3 linked regions of the Homo sapiens genome follow. The protein of the gene in region 2 interacts with the protein of the main gene of each other region in a biochemical or structural test. Each region holds a gene or a part of one and is shown on either strand. Other genes may lie near its edges.

Evidence for each region.
Region 1: the proteins of HES4 (region 2) and LTN1 form a complex in vitro, tested with the Homo sapiens proteins (one large-scale study listed by BioGRID).
Region 3: the proteins of HES4 (region 2) and COPG2 form a complex in vitro, tested with the Homo sapiens proteins (one large-scale study listed by BioGRID).

The regions. Positions count from the first base shown.
Region 1 is NC_000021.9:28,944,284-28,947,935, reverse strand, and holds part of LTN1 (E3 ubiquitin-protein ligase listerin), read left to right. Parts: intron 1-329; coding exon 330-472; intron 473-1,648; coding exon 1,649-1,784; intron 1,785-1,984; coding exon 1,985-2,129; intron 2,130-3,339; coding exon 3,340-3,553; intron 3,554-3,652.
Region 2 is NC_000001.11:998,371-1,001,475, forward strand, and holds HES4 (transcription factor HES-4), read right to left. Parts: upstream 1,728-3,105; 5' UTR 1,604-1,727; coding exon 1,496-1,603; coding exon of another isoform or gene 1,418-1,495; coding exon 1,322-1,417; intron 1,244-1,321; coding exon 1,156-1,243; intron 1,063-1,155; coding exon 689-1,062; 3' UTR 594-688; downstream 1-593. UniProt on the Homo sapiens protein: Transcriptional repressor. Binds DNA on N-box motifs: 5'-CACNAG-3'.
Region 3 is NC_000007.14:130,658,624-130,662,275, reverse strand, and holds part of COPG2 (coatomer subunit gamma-2), read left to right. Parts: intron 1-3,652. UniProt on the Homo sapiens protein: The coatomer is a cytosolic protein complex that binds to dilysine motifs and reversibly associates with Golgi non-clathrin-coated vesicles, which further mediate biosynthetic protein transport from the ER, via the Golgi up to the trans Golgi network.

The sequences.
Region 1 (3,652 bases), on a different chromosome or scaffold from region 2:
CAGGCATTAGCCACCGCACCCCGCAATTGACTCTTTTTTTTTTTTAAAAGAGGACATAATGTCATGTGGCTAGTATAATTTTAAAAAATCATATATGGGGAAAAGTTATATATGCTCATTTAAAAAATTTATGCAGAAAAGAGAAAAGGAGCAAAAAAAACCAATTTCATCAAGTCAGCACTTGTTAAATCTATCATAGTTTCTTTTTATGTAATTATATGTGATAGAATTATTCATCTATCTTTTTCAGTAGTCTAAATAAAAGAAATATATAAAATAACTGTATGTTTGGAAGAAATCTAACTTGTGTTTTTTTTTTCTTTAAACAGTTTTTTTCCACTAACTGAAGGCAATTTGCATACCATTCAAAGTCTATGTCCATTTTTGTCAAAAGAAGAAAAGAAAGAATTTAGTGCTCAATGTATACCTGCTCTTTTGGGCTGGACTAAGAAAGATCTTTGCAGCACTAATGGTTAGTTGCTTGATAATAAATATTTCATTAATTTAATTATTGCTTGAGATGAAGAACTGTTTCTAATATATAAGACCACATCTAGCAGAGGTAAATTGAATTACAGCTGATTTGTTCTGAGATTATATGGATGAGTGTTGTTAGACAGTGGCTGTTACCATTTTACAGTACAAAAATGCTGGGCCTTAAGGGAAGACTTACGCCCAGAAATACCTTCTAACCATTTCTTTTCTATCTATAGCTTTTTAAAGCTGTGCCTCATTTCTCCCTAGCCAATCAATGATTGAACATATAAAGGCAAAAATAGCGTCTGTTGTATTTAAAACACTGCACTTTTCATTTGTTTATTAATTTAATAAACATTTATGAGCACCTGCTACATGGTAGTTCCTATTGTAGAGAAGACAAACATAAAGTTGTATTATGTGATAACCGATGTAGCAAAAAGATGTGCTATGTATAGAAGTGGCAGAAAGGAAGGAGTTTCCACTCTGCTTTGAGGGTGTTAGTGGCAATTTCACAAAGAGAAATATTTCTACTGGGTGTTGAAGGATAAATAGTTTTCCATATGGACATAGTTGGGGAAGGGCATTCCAGGTACACAAAAACATACAAGGGTACAGATTGTTCATTTTGGCTGGTATGTAAGATAGAAGGTTGGGGACAGAGGGTGTTAAGATACACCAGTGGATGGATTTTGAGGAATGGTAGAGATTCTAAAGAGTGAGTCCACATCAGAGTTTACCACATGTACTAGCTGCTATTGAGTGAATGAATGTATAAATTATGAAACAGTATGTTCTATTTTCCATTTGCTGTTTCCAGCTACTCTGTAGCTGTAGGGTTTTTTTTATTTGAATGATGAGTTTGCTGAATATGTCCTGCACTTAAGAAACCAAAACAAAAACAGCATAAGTCAGTTTAAATTACAGCATCATTCACTCTTTCTCCTCCCCCAAATTCTCTATTGTGTGCTAGGTGCTGGGTTTGGAGACAGGGTCTCTGCCCTTTGGAGCTTATAAGCTCATTTGTTGACTCTTAGATAAAAGTCATTATTAGAGTTCTTAACCTGAACACTTCTCAAGAAAGTCTTTTACTTCTCAAAGTGGACTTTTTTTTAATAGTAGCGATATAGTTCTTAAATATTTTTAATTTTCATTTTGAATTTTACTTTAGGAGGTTTTGGACATCTTGCCATTTTCAATTCTTGTCTGCAAACCAAAAGTATAGATGATGGAGAGCTATTACATGGAATATTAAAAATCATAATATCCTGGAAGAAAGAGCATGAAGATATTTTTCTTTTCAGTTGGTAGGTGATACTTTATACTATGTTTTTCCTTCAGTATACAATTCAGACAAAGATTACGTATCTGTGTCACAATTTTGTAGAGAAATTATGGTAGACATTTAAGTCAGTTATAAATAAGTATGTAAGATTTAAAGTAGCATACTTTCTAATTGAATGTCAATATAATCTTTTATTGTCTTTTGTTTTTATCTTTATCACAGTAATCTATCAGAAGCAAGTCCAGAGGTACTGGGTGTAAATATAGAAATAATCCGGTTTCTTTCCCTATTTCTGAAATACTGCTCATCCCCTTTGGCAGAGAGTGAGTGGGACTTCATCATGTGCTCCATGTTGGCTTGGTTGGAGGTAAATTAACCCGATATGTCATCACCTCTTGTGGGTTTTTGTACATACTTTTGCATCAGAACTATTTACTAATCTCATTCTTTAAGTGATGATTGTAATTGGTTCCTTTGTATAATTTAAAACACTTTATAGATGTTCTTCTTACCAGCTACTATTTGACAGAATAGTAAAATGATAGATTTTTAATGACTACCAGCATCATTCAGTGACCAAATCTCCTGTTATTAAAATGCCTTCTCCATTAGCTTATTGTAATATTTGCAGCACAGCCCTTTCAGGTTTTATCTGTTAATGACAATTATTTTGGTCTTTTTTGGTTATAATTAGATTATTTCTAAAACATACTGTGTGAATATTGTGAGAGTAATGCATTAAATAGTAGCAGATTCAGAGGGAATTAGTGTAATTTTTGACCCAAAGCAACCAGAGGTATATTACTTGTGGGCTCCAAGGCAGCAAGTCAGTCAGGGTTGGATTGGTCTGAATCTCTGCTTTGCCTGCTATTAGCTATGTGACTTAGAGTTTTAAACTTAAACTATTTGAGACTCAGTTTTCTTTCTTTCTTTCTTTCTTTTTTTTTAAATTTGAGATAGAATCTCGCTCTGTTGCTTAGGCTGGAGTGCAATGGTGCGATCTTGGCTCACTGCAACCTCCGCCTTCTGGGTTCAAGCAATTCTTGTGCCTCAGCCTCTCAAATAGCAGGATTACAGATGCCCACCAGCATGCACGACTAATTTTTATATTTTTGGTAGAGATGCGGTTTCACCATTTTGGCCAGGCTGGTCTCAAACTCCTGCCCTCATGTGATCCACTTGCCTCAGCCTCCCAAAGTGTTGGGATTACAGGCATGAGCCACTGTGCCTGGCCGATTTTCTTATTTTAAAATAATAACTTACAACTTGTAGGGCTACTGAGAAGATTATAAATGTGTATTTAATGTGTCTGACTTAGTGTTTCCTTCCATGGGTTAGAAATTAAAAAGGGTACTTGAGAATAAATTGTTTATTAATGATTCTATTCATGGTATTTAATTTTGAAGAAAAAAGTTATTTTGATGTAAAATTTTATGTTTCTCCTGAGATTACACACCTCAACTGCTTTTCGTTTTAAAATTCAAAGAAATGAAAGTGGGGCTTTTCTTTATATTGGCTTTATTTGTAGTGTTCTGGTAGAAGTCTGTTTACCTATTTCATTTTTATTGTTTTTTCAGACAACAAGTGAGAATCAGGCATTGTATTCTATTCCACTTGTGCAACTGTTTGCCTGTGTCAGCTGTGATTTGGCCTGTGACCTCAGTGCTTTCTTTGATTCCACAACTCTGGATACCATTGGCAATCTTCCTGTAAATCTAATCAGTGAATGGAAAGAATTTTTTTCCCAAGGCATCCACAGTTTGCTTTTACCTATTTTGGTGACTGTTACAGGCAAGTGAAAAAGGGAATAATAGTGAGATTGATTCATTGGAAATGACTTACTGAAAAATTCAAAAGCAAAAATTTTGATGTTTAAATCAAATAATACTA
Region 2 (3,105 bases):
TCCCGCCGGGCGCCCCCCGCACAGACGCCTGGAGGAGGGGTCTGCGGTGGGCACGGGCAGCTCTGCACTTAACAGGAGAACCCAGCGGGGGTCTTCAGGGCCAAGGGCGGCCGCCCTCATCCCAGCGCCGCTCAGGACCGCAGCCTCCGCCTTCCGCGGTCCGGGGACTGGGAGTCGGGAAAGGGGCCTCCGAAAAGTAACTTGCCCGGCGATGCTGCGCGACCGCCTTCCAGCACCGGGAAGATTCTGGGCACTCAGGGACGTTGAGCTTCCCACCTGAGCCTCCGGGGGGACCCCTCACAACCGCCACCGCAGAGCGAGGCAAACCCAACGCGGGGGCAGAGGGCGGGTGCGCATGCGGGGCTGCAGGGATGCGGAGGGGAGGGCGCGGAGCGGAGGGCGCGGAGCGGAGGGGTCGCCCTCAGTCCTCGGTCCCGCCCCCAGCCCGCCCCCCCGGGCCCGCCCGACGCCCCCAGCCACCTGCAGACCGCGGCCCTGGGAGGAGGGCGGGACCCCGGCGCGGCGTGGCTGCGGGGCGCTCCCAAAGTCAACTCTTCACCAAGACAAAGAAAGAAAACTCGTGACGCAGACTCTGGAATAATAAATACGTTTTCTCTGCTACAGTCTCGGCAAAGGCCACGGCCCTAGAACGGGGCGCCGCCTCCGATGCAGTCTCAGGGCCACAGCCTCAGCGCAGCCACGGCCTCCAGGGCCCACCCGGGCCCTGCGGCCCCGCCCTGGGGGCGGCGGGCAGCGCCCGGGTCAGACCCGGCAGCAGCGGCGGCGCGAGCAGAGGGAAGGGGCCGCCGAGCGATGGCAGCAGCGGGCGGCCCGCGTAGACCTCGGGCGCTGGGGCCTCTGCGGGGGCAGCCGGGGACAGCGAGGCCGGGCGGCGGGAGGGTCCCAGCTGGCGCAGGCAGGCTGCCAGGTGGCCCAGCAGGCGGGAGCGCACGTCGGCCGGGACGCCCTCGCAGCCGGCCAGGAAGCGGTTCACCTCCGCCAGACACTCGTGGAAGCCGGCGCGGTACTTGCCCAGAACGGCGGGGTCGGCGCTGAGCGCGGCTGCGGGAGCGACACAGGAGGAGAGGTCGGTGCCGGGTCCCGGGGGTCCCGCGCCCTCCCCCCGCCTCCAAGCCGCCGCCGCCCGCGCCTCACCCGTCACCTGCACGCGACGCAGGCTCCGCAGGTGTCTCACGGTCATCTCCAGGATGTCCGCCTTCTCCAGCTTCGAGTGGCGGGAGCTCTGGGGGCGGGGATAGGCGGGAGGTCCAGGTCAGCTGCGACCCAGACTCCGGGTCTCGGGCCTTCGCCCCCGACTTACCTCTTTTCTGAGGGCGTCCAGGATGAGGGTTTTGAGCTGAGCGAGGCTCTCGTTAATACGCGCTCGGCGCCGCTTCTCCATGACCGGCTTGGAGGACTGCGGGTCGGGCACCGGCTGAGTCCCGCGTCCCTCCCGCCCCCCGGTCGCCCCCCTCACGCCCGGCCGGGACCCCACCTTGCGGTGCTCGGCCGCGCTCCGGGGCTTGTCTGGGGTCCGGCTGGCGCTGGCCGGCGCTCCTGCCATCGGCGAGGCGCTCGGTTTCCCCGGCGTGTCTGCGGCCATGGTGCGCCCCGCGCCTCCCCGTGCCGGGTGGAGCGCGCCGCCACGGACCACGGGCGGGCTGGCGGGCGAGCGGCGAGCGCGCGGCGATCCGAGCCCCTAGGGCGGATCCCGGCTCCAGGCCCGCGCGCGCCTCAGGCCGTTTCCCTATTTAAGGCCTCGCCGCCGCGGGGTGTGTGAACCCGGCTCCGCATTCTTTCCCACACTCGCCCCAGCCAATCGACGGCCGCGCTCCTCCCCCGCTCGCTGTCAGTCACGCCTCGGCTCCGGGCGCGGCCTCCGCGGGCGACAATGGCATGCGGGGCCCCCGCCCGCGCCCCCCTCCGACACCGCTGGGGACAGGGCCGGGTGATCCCGCGCTCCCCGATGCAGCCGGGGCCGAGCAACGCGCCGGGAGGGGCCGCTGGGGGCGAACGGGGCCCGGGACCCCCGGGGCTGGGCGGAGTCTCGGGGCTCACTCTCCCGCCCAGGGGGCCGGGAGCCGGGGCTGGACGGAGCTGGGGCTGTGGCCGCGCGGGAAGTCGGGAAGGAAATTCCCCCAGTGGCGCAGGGTCCGGCGGCGCCGAGGGGTGGGCGAGCCTCGGTCTCGAGCCTCTTGGCTTCCTCCGCCCGTCCCCACTCCGGTCCCGGTTTGGGCCCTGCTCGGTCTCCGAGTTTGATCCGACACCGGCTCGGCCTCCGGGGGTCCCACCCTCAGGTGTGCGGCCTGGAGCACGGAGGGCTGCAGAAAGCCTTGGGAGCGACAGAGCCGGGGGAAGGTCGGCGGCCGGGTCGGCAGGCGGGAGGGCGGAGTCAGCGGACGGCGAAGGGGCGCACGGGTGGCCCCGCAGAGCAGGGCCGGTGATGGCGCGGGCCGGGCCGGACCACGAGGAGCAGAACGTGCGCGTGACGCGAGCGGGCTGGTGACGTCACCAGGCACCCGGGGCGATGACGCAAGCCTGCTGGGATGACGTCATGTGGCCCGTGTCGCCACGTGCTTCCAGGTGACCCGCTGGCGAACTCAGCAGCAGCAAAGTGGGGCTCACAGAAAAATGAGGGGCCACTGTTAATATAACTGCAAAGGGGCAGGTTGCGTAAAACAGGGCTGTGGTTATTTTCGTGTTTGCTGTTTTTATTTCGAATGCCGCTGCGGGGCACGTTGGTCCTTTCCGCACTCGGGGTCCCCGGCGGCCTCACGCGTCCGTGCAGCGGAGGCTTCCTGAGCCCCCTGGAGAGCCTGGCCTGGGCCCGGGTGTGGAGACCCTCCCGGGCTTTCAATCCGGGCAGGAGGCAGATGGCAGACTCAGCAGTCACGTAAGAGAACCGAATTAGGTGGGTGGCCTGGGTGGACAAAAGCCTTCTTGACGCCGGGTGGTCCCAAAGGCTTCTGCGGGGTGGGGGGTCCTCAGGGGGGAAGCCTCAAGGGAGGGCGTGGCATTCCCAGGGTGCGAAGGGGGCGCAGGGACGAGGGAGGTGGGGAGGGGGAGCTGGGCCAGCGAGAACCGGGAGCTTCTGGTCGGGGAGGG
Region 3 (3,652 bases), on a different chromosome or scaffold from region 2:
TTGAGTCTTGTTATGGATCTAAATAATGAGAGGTTTTAGGAGTAGATCTTCAGGAAGATCAGCAGTCCCCTGTAAGGCAGCTGTTTCAGGGGAGGCCATTATATACTCTACAGGCAAAGGAAGACTAATTTCCTCACATATGGGATAAAGGACTGATGCTTCTACTAGCAGAAGATGTCACAGAATTTAGGAGTTCGGGGTACTTGGCTTCATCAGAGTCTGTCCATATATCTTCATTCTACTTTTCAGGGCCCCATTCCTTGCCAGTCAAGGTCCTAACTTTAACATAAGATGTCCTGCAAGAGTGTGAATTCAATTTGCATTGTAACTGAGCCACCTGCAGGATATACTTTGTAGAAGTCTCAGCCCTGTAGCCACATGATATAAGGCTTTCTATGAAGGCAGTTATAGATTTCTGGCCCCCTTACCCAGATTTGAGTAGTGCTTTTAAAACTCCGAGCTCATCATTTTCTTTTCCTGAGAAAAGAATTATCCAGTGTACCTAGAAACAACTAATTAACCCATTATACAACTTATTTTTACTAAAATCTTCTATGGCATCCACTAGTTAGTTACCCAAGGCTTTGTCTTCTGTAGGTCCTTGTCTGCAGATGATGATTTTAAATATTTTGCCACTGCATGCTGTGGACTACTAGTAGCCCCTTTACCATTGGAAACTGGTCATTAATACCTTCAATCAAATCAGAGAAGCAACTTCAGGTTCATATCTTTAAGGACTTCTTTTAACCACTTCCTGTAGCAGAAATTCAGGGTTCAGACAGGGAAACAGAACCACTATGAGTATTGTGGAATTAGGTGTTTATTAGAGGAATTAGACTAGAAAACTAGGCAGGTTGAGCTGCTGGAGTAGGGTTCAGAGGGAGGCTGTTACATAAGTCATGGAAGGCTATTGCCTCTTTTGTGGCTTTGTTTTTGCAGCCAGGTGTCTTCCCAAGGCTGCTGTTACTCAGAGGGCTGGCAGTTGGGAAGAAAAGCTGGACATGTAGTGGAGAAAAGGAAGCAGAGTAAGAAAGAAAAAGGATGAGGACAAACTTTTGAAGCCTGTAGCACAGAGGTTTATATTAAGAAAAGAAGATATGAAATTGTCTTCTAGGAAATGGATTAGGGAAATGTAGGATTGTTCGATAGGACTAATAGCCTGTTGAAGTTAGTGCTTATGAATTTAAAGTATTACCAATGTTTTTCTCCAGCTACATGGTGAATGTTTTTCTCCAGCTACAGCCTGCAGGTTAAAGCACTGAAGGCTTAGAGATAGGATTTAATCAGGATTGAAGTTTTGCCAGGTTAGTGAACAGAGGGAGAAGCAAAAAAGTTGAGTGGTTGGAACATCGACTGTGGAATCTTCGGTTAGGAGGGAAGCAAGAACGGGCTGACAGGGACAGCAAAAAGTTGGTAGAACCAGTGGATTGTAGGTCAAGAGAGAGTGAAAGAAGTTTGGAGTCAGGAGTGTGAGTGCTTGGGAATGAAATTAGAAAGGGATGCTGTTACTGATAGGCTGTGGCAGTGGGTGATCATTGTAGGGAGGATGGCATCATTGGAGAAGAGGAGGTCGAGGAATGAAGAGGTCAGAGGTTTAGAGATACCATCTGTATGGATATTAAAATCACCAATACTTATTACTGGGATTGCACTGGAGAGACAGTGAACAAGGTACTGGTATTTTTTAAAAATAAGGGAAGTGACCTGGGGTTTAATGGACAACCAGCAATGGTAGCAGGTGACATAGTATAAAGGCATAAGCTTCCCCACCTGTAGGCCTGGTGGTATGAGGGTTATGGGAGAGAAAACAGCTGCTATTTCAGAGGGTTGCAGGAGGATCCCTGGGAGAGAACCAGGTTTCAGTTAAAGAAAAAGATGGGAACATTCAGAGAAGAGTTTGAGAATATAGGGGATTTTGCTGATGAAAGTGTCAGAGAATATAATGGCGCTGATTAGAAGGGTGGAAAATGGAGTCAGACGAGGTGCTGTACCCAGATGCAAGGAATAAGTCTGCAGGTTATGAATAATGACCAGAGTATTTTAGGCTTTTTGTAGTGACTGAGGTAAGTAGCCATGTACAGCATGATGTGATTAGTTTTAATGATTCCTTAGGCAAAAATACGGAATTGAGGGAGTGATTGTTTTGGGACAAAGAGAGGTAGAGATTTTGCCAGAAATACGTGGAGCTCCTTCCGTTACCAGCATTCCTTTACCAGAAGGTAATTACTGTCTTGAAGTTGGTATTCTTCTATCGTTGTTTATATTAATATATGAGGATTACATAGTTTACATCTGTAATCAATACTTTGCATTTTTGTGTGTCTTAAAATATAAAAATAACATCTTCTTCTTTTGCAATGTTGTTGTTGTTGTTTTTGAGTTGTCGCCCAGGCTGAAGTGCAGTGGCGCGATCTTGGCTCACTGCAGCCTCCGCCTCCCGGGTTTGAGCGATTCTCCTGCCTCAGCCTCTGGAGTAGCTGGGACTGTGGGCACGTGCCACCATGCCTGTCTAATTTTTGTATTTTTAGTAGAGACAGGGTTTCATCATGTTGGCCAGGATGGTCTCAATTTCCTGACCTCTTTATCTGCCCGCCTTGGCCTCCCAAAGTACTGGGATTATAGGCCTGAGCCACCACACCCAGCCTGCAGTGTTTATAATTAATACATTTTTAAGATTTACTGGCTTGTTACATGTACTTCTACTTTATTTACTTTCACTACTATATGGAATTCCAATATGTGAATATACAGTAATTCTATTTATCCATTCTCCCATTGGTAGATATAAGTTGTTCCCACATTTTACCTATTACAAATGATACTGCACATAATGTTTATGTACACAGTGAGACTTTTTCTGGAGTAGATACCTACAAGTGGAATTTCTAGATAATGCTTGTTTGTTCGTTTTTTTTTTTTTTGAGACGGAGTCTTGCTCTGTCGCCCAGGCTGGAGTGCAATGGCATGATCTCGGCTCACTGCAACCTTTGCCTCCCAGGTTCACGCCATTCTCCTGCCTCAGCCTCCTGAGTAGCTGGGACTACAGGCACCCGCCACCACACCTGGATAATTTTTTGTATTTTTAGTAGAGACGGGGTTTCACTGTGTTAGCCAGGATGGTCTCGATCTGCTGACCTTGTGATCCGCCCGTCTCAGCCTCCCAAAGTGCTGGGATTGCAGGCGTAAGCTACCGCGCCCGGCCTAAGCATATTTTCATGTACTTATTTGCCATCTGTATATCTGCTTTGATGAAGTGTCTGTTAAAATTTGTTACCACTTAAAAAAATCAGGTTGTCGGCTGGGCCCGGTGGCTCACGCCTGTAATCTCAGCACTTTAGGAGGCTGAGGTGGGCAGATCATGAGGTCAGGAGTTTTAGACCAGCCTGGTCAACATAGTGAAACCCTGTCTCTACTAAAAATACAAAAAATTAGCTGGGTGTGCTGGCAGGCACCTGTAATCCCAGCTACTTGGGAGGCTGAGGTGGGAGAATCACTTGAACCCAGGAGGGGGAGATTGCAGTGAGCTGAGATCGTGCCACTGCACTCCAGCCCAGGTAACAGTGCAAGACTCCGTGTCAAAAAAAAAAAAATCAGGTTGTCATCTTACTGAGTTATAAGTTTCTTTATGTATTCTGGATAGAAGTCCTTTATC